Linked DNA regions of Homo sapiens. The protein of the gene in region 2 interacts with the protein of the main gene of each other region in a biochemical or structural test. Each region holds a gene or a part of one and is shown on either strand. Other genes may lie near its edges.

Region 1 (7,000 bases), on a different chromosome or scaffold from region 2:
ACAGAAGTTAAAAGGCATAAAGAAGTAAATTTAACATGGAGCCCACAAGTGTCATCAGTAGATGGTTAGTCTTGGGAGAGAAGGAGAGGAGGAGAAGAGATGAAACTGGTCCCTGGACTTTTATGGGATGCAGAACAAGGACCCTGGAAGACAAGAAGGTCCAGAAATGGAAAGAATATGACTATTAGTACTTTCCAGGTCAGAACACACATAGGTGTGCCCTGAACTTCCTTCTTCAACAATAAATGCTGTCAAGAAAAATTACTATGAAATAAGCATACAAATACAAATCAGTGAGTGGTAACACAAATGTAAATATTGTAAGCTATATTTTTATTGGTGAGGTACCACGTTTAACAAGAAACCACAATGCCATATCTATGCTATTTGTATTTATTTATAATAGCTCAAGCTACATCTCTACCAGAAGAGTAAACAGCTCTATCAAAAAAATCTTGTCAAGAGAAAAAATATTTAACTATGCACTTGAAAAATTTGGGTTCTGAGGGGAGGAGCCAAGATGGCCGAATAGGAACAGCTCCGGTCTACAGCTCCCAGCGTGAGCGACGCAGAAGACGGGTGATTTCTGCATTTCCATCTGAGGTACCGGGTTCATCTCACTAGGGAGTGCCAGACAGTGGGCGCAGGCCAGTGTGTGTGCGCACCGTGCGCGAGCCGAAGCAGGGCGAGGCATTGCCTCACCTGGGAAGCGCAAGGGGTCAGGGAGTTCCCTTTCCGAGTCAAAGAAAGGGGTGACGGACGCACCTGGAAAATCGGGTCACTCCCACCGGAATATTGCGCTTTTCAGACCGGCTTAAGAAACGGCGCACCACGAGACTATATCCCACACCTGGCTCAGAGGGTCCTACGCCCACGGAATCGCGCTGATTGCTAGCACAGCAGTCTGAGATCAAACTGCAAGGTGGCAACGAGGCTGGGGGAGGGGGGCCCGCCATTGCCCAGGCTTGATTAGGTAAACAAAGCAGCCGGGAAGCTCGAACTGGGTGGAGCCCACCACAGCTCAAGGAGGCCTGCCTGCCTCTGTAGGCTCCACCTCTGGGGGCAGGGCACAGACAAACAAAAAGACAGCAGTAACCTCTGCAGACTTAAGTGTCCCTGTCTGACAGCTTTGAAGAGAGCAGTGGTTCTCCCAGCACGCAGCTGGAGATCTGAGAACGGGCAGACTGCCTCCTCAAGTGGGTCCCTGACCCCTGACCCCCGAGCAGCCTAACTGGGAGGCACCCCCCATCAGGGGCACACTGACATCTCACATGGCAGGGTATTCCAACAGACCTGCAGCTGAGGGTCCTGTCTGTTAGAAGGAAAACTAACAACCAGAAAGGACATCTACACCGAAAACCCATCTGTACATCACCATCATCAAAGACCAAAAGTAGATAAAACCACAAAGATGGGGAAAAAACAGAACAGAAAAACTGGAAACTCTAAAACGCAGAGCGCCTCTCCTCCTCCAAAGGAACGCAGTTCCTCACCAGCAACAGAACAAAGCTGGATGGAGAATGATTTTGACGAGCTGAGAGAAGAAGGCTTCAGACGATCAAATTACTCTGAGCTACGGGAGGACATTCAAACCAAAGGCAAAGAAGTTGAAAACTTTGAAAAAAATTTAGAAGAATGTATAACTAGAATAACCAATACAGAGAAGTGCTTAAAGGAGCTGATGGAGCTGAAAACCAAGGCTCGAGAACTACGTGAAGAATGCAGAAGCCTCAGGAGCCGATGCGATCAACTGGAAGAAAGGGTATCAGCAATGGAAGATGAAATGAATGAAATGAAGCGAGAAGGGAAGTTTAGAGAAAAAAGAATAAAAAGAAATGAGCAAAGCCTCCAAGAAATATGGGACTATGTGAAAAGACCAAATCTACGTCTGATTGGTGTACCTGAAAGTGATGTGGAGAATGGAACCAAGTTGGAAAACACTCTGCAGGATATTATCCGGGAGAACTTCCCCAATCTAGCAAGGCAGGCCAACGTTCAGATTCAGGAAATACAGAGAACGCCACAAAGATACTCCTCGAGAAGAGCAACTCCAAGACACATAATTGTCAGATTCACCAAAGTTGAAATGAAGGAAAAAATGTTAAGGGCAGCCAGAGAGAAAGGTCGGGTTACCCTCAAAGGAAAGCCCATCAGACTAACAGCGGATCTCTCGGCAGAAACCCTACAGGCCAGAAGAGAGTGGGGGCCAATATTCAACATTCTTAAAGAAAAGAATTTTCAACCCAGAATTTCATATCCAGCCAAACTAAGCTTCATAAGTGAAGGAGAAATAAAATACTTTATAGACAAGCAAATGCTGAGAGATTTTGTCACCACCAGGCCTGCCCTAAAAGAGCTCCTGAAGGAAGCGCTAAACATGGAAAGGAACAACCGGTACCAGCCGCTGCAAAATCATGCCAAAATGTAAAGACCATCGAGACTAGGAAGAAACTGCATCAACTAATGAGCAAAATCACCAGCTAACATCATAATGACAGGATCAAATTCACACATAACAATATTAACTTTAAATATAAATGGACTAAATTCTGCAATTAAAAGACACAGACTGGCAAGTTGGATAAAGAGTCAAGACCCATCAGTGTGCTGTATTCAGGAAACCCATCTCACGTGCAGAGACACACATAGGCTCAAAATAAAAGGATGGAGGAAGATCTACCAAGCCAATGGAAAACAAAAAAAGGCAGGGGTTGCAATCCTAGTCTCTGATAAAACAGACTTTAAACCAACAAAGATCAAAAGAGACAAAGAAGGCCATTACATAATGGTAAAGGGATCAATTCAACAAGAGGAGCTAACTATCCTAAATATTTATGCACCCAATACAGGAGCACCCAGATTCATAAAGCAAGTCCTGAGTGACCTACAAAGAGACTTAGACTCCCACACATTAATAATGGGAGACTTTAACACCCCACTGTCAACATTAGACAGATCAACGAGACAGAAAGTCAACAAGGATACCCAGGAATTGAACTCAGCTCTGCACCAAGCAGACCTAATAGACATCTACAGAACTCTCCACCCCAAATCAACAGAATATACATTTTTTTCAGCACCACACCACACCTATTCCAAAATTGACCACATAGTTGGAAGTAAAGCTCTCCTCAGCAAATGTAAAAGAACAGAAATTATAACAAACTATCTCTCAGACCACAGTGCAATCAAACTAGAACTCAGGATTAAGAATCTCACTCAAAGCCGCTCAACTACATGGAAACTGAACAACCTGCTCCTGAATGACTACTGGGTACATAACGAAATGAAGGCAGAAATAAAGATGTTCTTTGAAACCAACGAGAACAAAGACACCACATACCAGAATCTCTGGGACGCATTCAAAGCAGTGTGTAGAGGGAAATTTATAGCACTAAATGCCTACAAGAGAAAGCAGGAAAGATCCAAAATTGACACCCTAACATCACAATTAAAAGAACTAGAAAAGCAAGAGCAAACACATTCAAAAGCTAGCAGAAGGCAAGAAATAACTAAAATCAGAGCAGAACTGAAGGAAATAGAGACACAAAAAACCCTTCAAAAAATCAATGAATCCAGGAGCTGGTTTTTTGAAAGGATCAACAAAATTGATAGACCGCTAGCAAGACTAATAAAGAAAAAAAGAGAGAAGAATCAAATAGACACAATAAAAAATGATAAAGGGGATATCACCACCGATCCCACAGAAATACAAACTACCATCAGAGAATACTACAAACACCTCTACGCAAATAAATCAGAAAATCTAGAAGAAATGGATACATTCCTCGACACATACACTCTCCCAAGACTAAACCAGGAAGAAGTTGAATCTCTGAATAGACCAATAACAGGCTCTGAAATTGTGGCAATAATCAGTAGTTTACCAACCAAAAAGAGTCCAGGACCAGATGGATTCACAGCCGAATTCTACCAGAGGTACAAGGAGGAACTGGTACCATTCCTTCTGAAACTATTCCAATCAATAGAAAAAGAGGGAATCCTCCCTAACTCATTTTATGAGGCCAGCATCATTCTGATACCAAAGCCGGGCAGAGACACAACCAAAAAAGAGAATTTTAGACCAATATCCTTGATGAACATTGATGCAAAAATCCTCAATAAAATACTGGCAAACCGAATCCAGCAGCACATCAAAAAGCTTATCCACCATGATCAAGTGGGCTTCATCCCTGGGATGCAAGGCTGGTTCAATATACGCAAATCAATAAATGTAATCCAGCATATAAACAGAGCCAAAGACAAAAACCACATGATTATCTCAATAGATGCAGAAAAAGCCTTTGACAAAATTCAACAACCTTCATGCTAAAAACTCTCAATAAATTAGGTATTGATGGGACGTATTTCAAAATAATAAGAGCTATCTATGACAAACCCACAGCCAATATCATACTGAATGGGCAAAAACTGGAAGCATTCCCTTTGAAAACTGGCAAAAGACAGGGATGCCCTCTCTCACCGCTCCTATTCAACATAGTGTTGGAAGTTCTGGCCAGGGCAATCAGGCAGGAGAAGGAAATAAAGGGTATTCAATTAGGAAAAGAGGAAGTCAAATTGTCCCTGTTTGCAAACGACATGATTGTTTATCTAGAAAACCCCATCGTCTCAGCCCAAAATCTCCTTAAGCTGATAAGCAACTTCAGCAAAGTCTCAGGATACAAAATCAATGTACAAAAATCACAAGCATTCTTATACACCAACAACAGACAAACAGAGAGCCAAATCATGAGTGAACTCCCATTCACAATTGCTTCAAAGAGAATAAAATACCTAGGAATCCAACTTACAAGGGATGTGAAGGACCTCTTCAAGGAGAACTACAAACCACTGCTCAAGGAAATAAAAGAGGACACAAACAAATGGAAGAACATTCCATGCTCATGGGTAGCAAGAATCAATATCGTGAAAATGGCCATACTGCCCAAGGTAATTTACAGATTCAATGCCATCCCCATCAAGCTACCAATGACTTTCTTCACAGAATTGGAAAAAACTACTTTAAAGTTCATATGGAACCAAAAAAGAGCCCGCATCGCCAAGTCAATCCTAAGCCAAAAGAACAAAGCTGGAGGCATCACACTACCTGACTTCAAACTATACTACAAGGCTACAGTAACCAAAACAGCATGGTACTGGTACCAAAACAGAGATATAGATCAATGGAACAGAACAGAGCCCTCAGAAATAATGCCGCATATCTACAACTATCTGATCTTTGACAAACCTGAGAAAAACAAGCAATGGGGAAAGGATTCCCTATTTAATAAATGGTGCTGGGAAAACTGGCTAGCCATATGTAGAAAGCTGAAACTGGATCCCTTCCTTACACCTTATACAAAAATCAATTCAAGATGGATTAAAGATTTAAACGTTAGACCTAAAACCATAAAAACCCTAGAAGAAAATCTAGGCATTACCATTCAGGACATAGGCGTGGGCAAGGACTTCATGTCCAAAACACCAAAAGCAATGGCAACAAAAGCCAAAATTGACAAATGGGATCTAATTAAACTCAAGAGCTTCTGCACAGCAAAAGAAACTACCATCAGAGTGAACAGGCAACCTACAACATGGGAGAAAATTTTCGCAACCTACTCATCTGACAAAGGGCTAATATCCAGAATCTACAATGAACTCAAACAAATTTACAAGAAAAAAACAAAGAACCCCATCAAAAAGTGGGCGAAGGACATGAACAGACACTTCTCAAAAGAAGACATTTATGCAGCCAAAAAACACATGAAGAAATGCTCACCATCACTGGCCATCAGAGAAATGCAAATCAAAACCACTATGAGATATCATCTCACACCAGTTAGAATGGCAATCATTAAAAAGTCAGGAAACAACAGGTGCTGGAGAGGATGTGGAGAAATAGGAACACTTTTACACTGTTGGTGGGACTGTAAACTAGTTCAACCATTGTGGAAGTCAGTGTGGCGATTCCTCAGGGATCTAGAACTAGAAATACCATTTGACCCAGCCATCCCATTACTGGGTATATACCCAAAGGACTATAAATCATGCTGCTATAAAGACACATGCACACGTATGTTTATTGCGGCACTATTCACAATAGCAAAGACTTGGAACCAACCCAAATGTCCAACAATGATAGACTGGATTAAGAAAATGTGGCACATATACACCATGGAATACTATGCAGCCATAAAAAATGATGAGTTCATGTCCTTTGTAGGGACATGGATGAAATTGGAAATCATCATTCTCAGTAAACTATCGCAAGAACAAAAAACCAAACACCGCATATTCTCACTCATAGGTGGGAATTGAACAATGAGATCACATGGACACAGGAAGGGGAATAACACACTCTGGAGACTGTGGTGGGGTCGGGGGAGGGGGGAGGGATAGCATTGGGAGATATACCTAATGCTAGATGACACTTTAGTGGGTGCAGCGCACCAGCATGGCACATGTATACATATGTAACTAACCTGCACAATGTGCACATGTACCCTAAAACTTAGAGTATAATAGAAAAAAAAAAATTAAAAAAAAAAAAGAAAATCTATAACCTTAAAAAAAAAAAAAAAGAAAAATATCCCATTTTAATAAAGGATAATGCATATTAGAAAAAAAAAAAAAAAGAAAAATTTGGGTTCTAGTCTCAAACGCTGAAACTTAGAATTAATTAAATTTTTTTGTTAACTTATATTCTTCTCATTTTAGCATATTTCTTCCTCTTTCCTGTTGGTCTCCATGTGCTGCCAAAATGATGCATAATCCCCAGGGTTTACGAGTCTTCATTCTCTGTAAAGTAGGGGTTTTTTCCCAGAGATAGGGAAGGTATCAGGAAAAAAGGAACAGTTAACCGGGTTATAGCTAATTTTACCTCGCTTATCTTTCAGAAAACTATCTCAGTTTGCCATGGTCCTGGATCCCTTCTCTGTAAAAGGTCCACTTTATCATCTTTGTCTTACTCTGAAATGCTTAACTTACTTAAGAATTTCAG
Region 2 (7,104 bases):
TTATTTTGTTCTTTGTTATATATATTTTTGAAGGTGGCTGTTTTAGGAAAGATAATGTAATCACAATATTAGAACATAATTTTACTGTAATCTAATTTTGTGTGTGTGTGTGTGTGTGTGTGTGTGTGTGTGTGTGTGTTTTGGATGGAATCTCACTCTGTCGCCCAGGCTGGAGTGCAGTGGCCTGATCTCAGCTTACTGCAGTCTCTGTCTCCTGGGTTCATTTAAGTGATTCTCCAGCCTCAGCCTCCCCAGTAGCTGGGATTACAGGTTCGTGCTACCACACCTGGCTAATTTTTTTGTATTTTTAGTGAGGACGGGATTTTGCCATGTTGGCCAGGCTGGTCTCGAACTCCTGACCTCAAGTGATCCGCCTGCCTTGGCCTCCCAAAGTGCTGGGATTACAGGCGTGAGCTACTGCCCCTGGCCAATTTTTGTATTTTTAGTAGAGATGGGGTTTCACCATGTTGGCCAGGCTGGTCTCGAACTCCTCCTGACCTCAAGTGATTCGCCAGCCTCGGCCTCCCAAAGTGCCAGGATTACAGGCAGGAATGAGCCACTGCCCCCAACCATCAGTCTAATTCTTATTTTTGCTTTTTACCTTTTCATTTTTATGTAGTAGAGGTGATTGTGTATGTTATTTTGTAGTTAGCTTTTTTCCCCTGAACGTTGTATTGTAAATGTAAATTTTTTTTTTTTTTTTTGAGACAGAGTCTCGGTGTTTGCCCAGTCTGAAGTGCAGTGGTACGATCTCAGCTCACTGCAGCCTCTGACTCCTGGGTTCAAGCGATTCTCCCACCTCAGCCTCTTGAGTAGCTGGGGCTACAGGAATGTTCCACCACGCTTGGCTAATTTTTGTATTTTTGGTAGAGACAAGGTTTCACCATGTTGGCCAGTTTGGTCTCGTACTACCGACCTCAGGTGATGCGCCCGCCTCGGCCTCCCAAAGTGCTGGGATTGCAGGCGTGAGCCACTGCGCCCGGCTGTAAGGTTTTTACTTAACCATTCTATTGTTGGGAATTGGGTTTCCACTTTTTTGTTATAGATAGTGGTGCAGTGAACATTTTTAAATAGCTTTTTGCTTCAGTGTAATTATTTCCTTAGAGAAAGTTACCAAGAGTGGTTTTACTAGTTCAGAGGGCTTCAGGATTTTTATGGCTCTTGCTAGCGGTGCTCTATTATTCTTTAGAAGACTTGTATTACTTCCAGTGTCAAGAAGGTTGCTCTTCCATGGAATGGTTTCTTTGTAGTTTGTCAAATATTGTGGGGAATTTTTAAAGGAAAAATTGCATTTTTACTGTCAAGTGCATATATTATTAAGTGCTTTTGTTAGTTACTGGATTATTGATATTTGAGTTTAATTTGGTTCCTCTGAGGATTTAATAAGGTAATATATGTGAAGATGTTTTGAAACCTGTAACCATTATTATTAATGAGGGTACTTGGTTTATCTGTCGTGCTGATAGTACTGAGTAAAGTGCAGGAATGAAATTCCTGAGGAACTGTTCTAAAGCTTTGTTGTTGTTGTTAACCTTTCTTTTTCATCTGAAAGTGTTTTTTATTAGCTGCTAGCCTATGACCAAGTTATTTTTGGTAACTTTTTTGTAATTTCATGGCACTATTGGGAATTTTCGCTGGTTGACTCTTCTTCTTCTACATTCCCTTCCCCATTAAAAATAAAAATATGGATTTACAATTGTTACTCTATTCCTAAACCTAAATAATATGACATTAGAATTGCTTGGGATACAGGATTCAGTCTGAATAAAATATTTTTCTTTTAGTGATTTTCAGCTTAGTATTTTTACTGCTTCTTTCTCTTGAGGCATTGCAACTTAAAAATTGTGCTGTTTAGCCAGGCGCCTGTAATCCCAGCTACTTGGGAGGCTGAGGCAGGAGCATCACTTGAGCCCAGGAGGCGGAGGTTGCAGTCAGCTGAGATTGTGCCACTGCACTCCAGCCTGGGAGACAGAGTGAGACTCTATCTCAAAAAAAAAAAAAATGTGCTGTGATTTAATGTAGTTGTTCATCATGCTTCCATTTAAATTTCAGTGAGACTGTTCATCTTTTGCAGTTAAATATCTTGTAGAAGGGCCTAAAATATCTACGTTGAATACAGCTTTATTGAAGCATCTATGTACATGGGGTTTTTGGGATGAATCAGTGAATAAAGCAAACATATTGTCCTTTTGGAGTTTACATTCTAATGTGACTAGGCAGACAATGAGACATTAAATTACCAGCCTATGTATAATAGTGTATAAGAGCTATGGAATTAGAAGAAAGCAGATTAAAGGTATAGGGAGTGTGGGGAGGGGAATGAGTTACAATTTTAAATGGATTGGGGGAACTTAATTGAGGAGCTAACATTTGAGCAAAGATTTGAAGGTTGGGTATTTAGCCGTTTGCTTTTTATCTAGGTTAATTAGTCATGTGGCTTCATTAGTAATTTATAAGGTTTAAATGGCATCATCCTTTGTTATTCTTTTATGTGCACATTGATACTAACCATCTCTGAAGTTAGACCAAAAAAGTTAATTGACATTGAGGGTCATTAGAGGTAAATTGTAGATGGCTATTACTAACCAAAGAGACATGTTTTGTTTTTCTTTTGGGCTTACGTATTTTACCTAATTAGTTTAGTTTTTGTTTCAAGTATGTGGAGAAAATAAACTTTTTAAGTTTGGGCCAAAACTTGCTTTGGTTTTCTTTTTCTTTTTCTTTTTTTTTTTTTAAGAGAAAAATGTAAGCCTGTAGTTGCTTAAAGATTCCACATTCTGAAACAGTGAAAACATGGGATCAGTCATGGTGTTCCTTTTTTTGGTTAAATGTAAACTTGTATTTTCAGTGTTACTCTAATTAGCAATGGTTTATACTTCTACATAAGGGATGTTAACTCATATTGTAGCTATTTAATAGCCATATATTTTGACTTAAAGGAGGATCTCAAGGCCAGGCGCGGTGGCTCATACCTGTAATCCCAGCACTTTAGGAGGCTGAGGCGGGTGGATCACCTGGGGTCAGGAGTTTGAGACTAGTCTGGCCAACATGGTGAAACCCCCATCTCTACTAAAAATACAAAAATTAGCCGGGCATGGTGGTGGGCGCCTGTAATCCCAGCTTCTTGGGAGGCTGAGGGAAGAGAATTGCTTGATCCCGGAGGTTGCAATGAGTGCGGAGGTTGCAGTGAGCTGAGATCATGCCATTACACTCCAGCCTGGGCAACAGAGCGAGACTCTGTCTCAAAACAAACAAACAAACAAAAAAAGGAGGATCTCATTTTTTTGTCCTAAATAGCTACAGCCGTGTTAGAACTGTCACCTTAGCAAAGTATTGTTTTTTTACTTTGAAACGAATTTTAAGGTTTTAGAAGATTGTTCTCTAGAATTACAATTTTCTGTTTTGACTAGTGATAGTATTTTGATGTTGTGTAAATAGTTGAGCATGAACAAAACCCTATTTTTTTTTTTAGCTATTTCAAGTGATTGTGACAACTTCAACGGAGATGTAAACAGTTTATTAACAGTCACACCTATTATCTTTTTTTTTTTTTTTTTTTTTTGAGACGGAGTCTTGCTCTGTCGCCCAGGCTGGAGTGCAGTGGCACGATCTCTGCTTACTGCAACCTTTGCCTCCCGGGTTCAAGTGATTCTCCTGCCTCAGCCTCCTGAGTAGCTGGGTCTACATGCGCACACCACCACGCCTGGCTAATTTTTGTATTTTTAGTAGAGACAGGGTTTCACCATGTTGGCTAGAATGGTCTCAAACTCCTGACCTCAGGTGATCCACCTGCCTCAGCCTCCCAAAGTTCTGGGATTACAGGCATGAGCCACCGTGCTTGGCCGCTGCCGTATCTTTTTAAATGAAAGTACTTGTGTTTTTTTTGTTTTTTTCCAAAGGATATCTGGGTCATCTATGATGTTACTGTTACCATCTAAGGGTTTTTTTGTTTGTTTTTGAGACAGAGTCTCTGTCGCCCAGGCTGGAGTGCAGTGGCGTGATCTTGGCTCACTGCAACCTCCGCCTCCCAGGTTCAAGCAATTCTCCTGCCTTAGCCCTCCCGAATAGCTGGGATTACAGGCACCCGCCACCATGCCTGGCTAAGTTTTGCATTTTTAGTAGATATGGAGTTTCACCATGTTGGCCAGGCTGCTCTTGAACTCCTGACCTCAGGTGATTCGCTTGCCTCGGCCTCCCAAAGTGCTGGGATTACAGGCGTGAGCCACCCCCGCCCAGCCTCATGAGCTAAGGTGTTTTTTTTTTTTTTGAGACAGTTTTGCTCTTTCCCAGGCTGGAGTGCAGTGGTGCAATCTCAGCTCACTGCAACCTCTGTTTCCCGGGTTCAAGCGATTCTCCTGCCTCAGCCTTCTGAGTAGCTGAGATTACAGGTGCCTGCTACCCCACTCAGCTAATTTTTGTATTTTTAGCAGAGACAGGGTTTCACCATGTTGGTTAGGCTCATCTCGAACTCCTGACCTTAAGCGATCCACCTGCCTTGGCCTCCCAAAGTGCTGGGATTATAGGCATGAGCCACCGTGCGCAGCCTACCCTGTCTCTTAAAAAACAGTAACAACAACAACAACAACAAAAAATCCTAAATCTTAAAAATGGAAGGCAAAAACTCTAAGCTTTGAGAGATTAGGGGACTTGCCCAAAGCAATATTTGTAGGATTTTATTACACCTCTCCCTTTATTTATTTTTTTAGAGTCAAGGTCTCCCTCTGTCACCCAGGCTGGAGTGCAGCCTCAATCTATGGGGCCAAGCATTTCTCCTGTCTTAGCCTCCTGAGTAGCTGGAACTACAGGTGTACACCAGCTGGCTAACATTTAAATTTTTTGTAGAGACAGGGTCCTGCCATGTTGCCCAGATTGGTCTCAAACTCCTGGGCTCAAGTGATCCTCCTGCCTCAGCTTCCCAAAGTGCTGAGATTACAGGTGTGAGCCACTGCACCGAGCCCCCTCCCTTTATTTTTATTTTTAAATTTTAAGTTCTGGGGCCCCTCCCTTGAAATAAATAGAAACGTAATATATACACAAGATCATGCTGTGTATTTTAAGGCAATGGTCCTCAACCTTTTTAACACTAGGGACCGGTTTTGTGGAAGATGGTTTTTCCATAGGGGCAGGGGATGATTTTGAGATGAAACTGTTCCACCGGCCGGGCACGGTGGCTCACGCCTGTAATCCCAGCACTTTGGGAGGCCGAGGCGGGCAGATCACGAGGTCAGGAGATCGAGACCATCCTGGCTAACATGGTGAAACCCCCCTCTACTAAAAATACAAAAAAATTAGCTGGGCGCGGTGGAGGGCGCCTGTAGTCACAGCTACTCCGGAGGCCGAGGCAAGAGAATGGCATGAAACCCGGGAGGCAGAGCTTGCAGTGAGCTGAGATAGCACCACTGTACTTCAGCCTGGGGGACAAAGTGAGACTCCGTCTAAAAAAAAAAAAATTGTTCCACCTCAGATCATTATGCATTTGTTAGATTCTCATAAAGAGCATACAACCTACATCTCTTGCTATATGCAGTTCCCAGTAGGGTTTGTGCTTCTATAAGAACCTAATGCTGCACCTGATCTAACAGGTGGGGCTCAGGTGCTAATGCTCACACAGCTCCTGTTGTGCAGTCTGGTTCCTAACAGGCCTGTTTTTTTTTTTTTAATTAGATGGAGTCTCGCTCTGTCACCAGGCTGGAGTGCAGTGGCACGATCTCAGCTCACTGCAACCTCTGCCTCCCGGGTTCAAGCGATTCTCCTGCCTTAGCCTCCCATGTAGTTGGTACTACAGGCGCACACTGTGATGCCCAGCTAATTTTTGTATTTTTAGTAGAGACGGGGTTTCACCATGTTGGCCAGGATGGTGTCGATCTCCTGACCTTGTGATCCGCCCAACAGCCTCCCAAAGTGCTGGAATTACAGGCGTGAGCTGCTGCGTCCGGCCCCCTAACAGGCTTGTTTTATGGAATACAGTCACGGACAGTACTTGCCCTTCAGGATATCTTTTTGTAACCTTGATTTTGGCTTGCTAAAATAGGAGGTCTATTTTCTTTTCTTTGTTTTTAATGTATGTGGTTCTGTACTTACGTGGTGTGAAATCTACATAAATGTTAAATCCTTGGTTATTTATTTATTTTGAGACAGAGTCTCACTCTGTCACCCAGTCTGGAAAGCAGTGGCATAATCTCGGCTCACTGTAACCTCCACTTCCCAGGTTCCAGTGATTCTCCTGCCTCAGCCTCCTGAGTAGCTGGGATTACAGGCATGCACCACTACACCTGGCAAATTTTTGTATTTTTTTTTAGTAGAGATGGGGTTTCACCATGTTGGCCAGGCTCGTCTTGAACTCCTGACCTTAGGTGATCTGCCTGTCTTGGCCTCCCAAAGTTTTGGGATTACAGCATGAGCCACTGCGCCTCGCCTTATTTTTTTGAGACAGGTTCTAGCTCTGTCACCCAGGCGGGAGTGCAGTGGTGCCATCATGGCTCATTGCAACCTCGAGTTCTCAGGCCCAAGTGATCCTCCTATCTCAGCCTCCTGAGTAGCTGGGACCACAGGCATGCGCCACTATGCCCAGCAAAATTTTTGTTTCACTCTGTTGCCTAGGGTGGGGTGCAGTGGCAGGATATCGGCTCAGTGCAACCTCTGCCTCTTGCGTTCAAATGATTCTCATGCCTCAGCCTCCCGAGTAGCTGGGATTATAGGCATGCGCCACTACACCTGGCTAATTTTTGTATTATTGGTAGAGATGGGGTTTTATCATGTTGGCCAGGCTGGTCTCGAACTCCCGACCTCAGGTGATCCATATACCTTGGCCTCCTGAAGTGCTGGAATTACAGGCATAAGCCACTGCGCCTAGCTTTTTTGTTTGTTTTTATTTTGTAGGGACAGAGATTTTACCTGTTGCCCAGGATGGCCTTGAATTCCTGACCTCAAACAATTTGCCCTCCTTGGCCTCCCAAGGTGCTGGGATTACAGGTGTGAGCCACTATGCCTGGCTGGTTTTTTAAATTATTATTATTGTTTGTGTGTGTGTGTTGCAGGATCTTACCCTGTCACCCAGGCTGGAATGCAGTGATGTGATCTCGGCTTACTGCAACCTCCGCCTCC

What was found. The genes of interacting proteins can lie anywhere in the genome.
Region 1: the proteins of ATXN2 (region 2) and SH3GL3 form a complex in vitro, tested with the Homo sapiens proteins (one study listed by BioGRID).

The regions. Positions count from the first base shown.
Region 1 is NC_000015.10:83,450,341-83,457,340, reverse strand, and holds part of SH3GL3 (endophilin-A3), read right to left. Parts: intron 1-7,000. UniProt on the Homo sapiens protein: Implicated in endocytosis. May recruit other proteins to membranes with high curvature.
Region 2 is NC_000012.12:111,589,241-111,596,344, reverse strand, and holds part of ATXN2 (ataxin-2), read left to right. Parts: intron 1-7,104. UniProt on the Homo sapiens protein: Involved in EGFR trafficking, acting as negative regulator of endocytic EGFR internalization at the plasma membrane.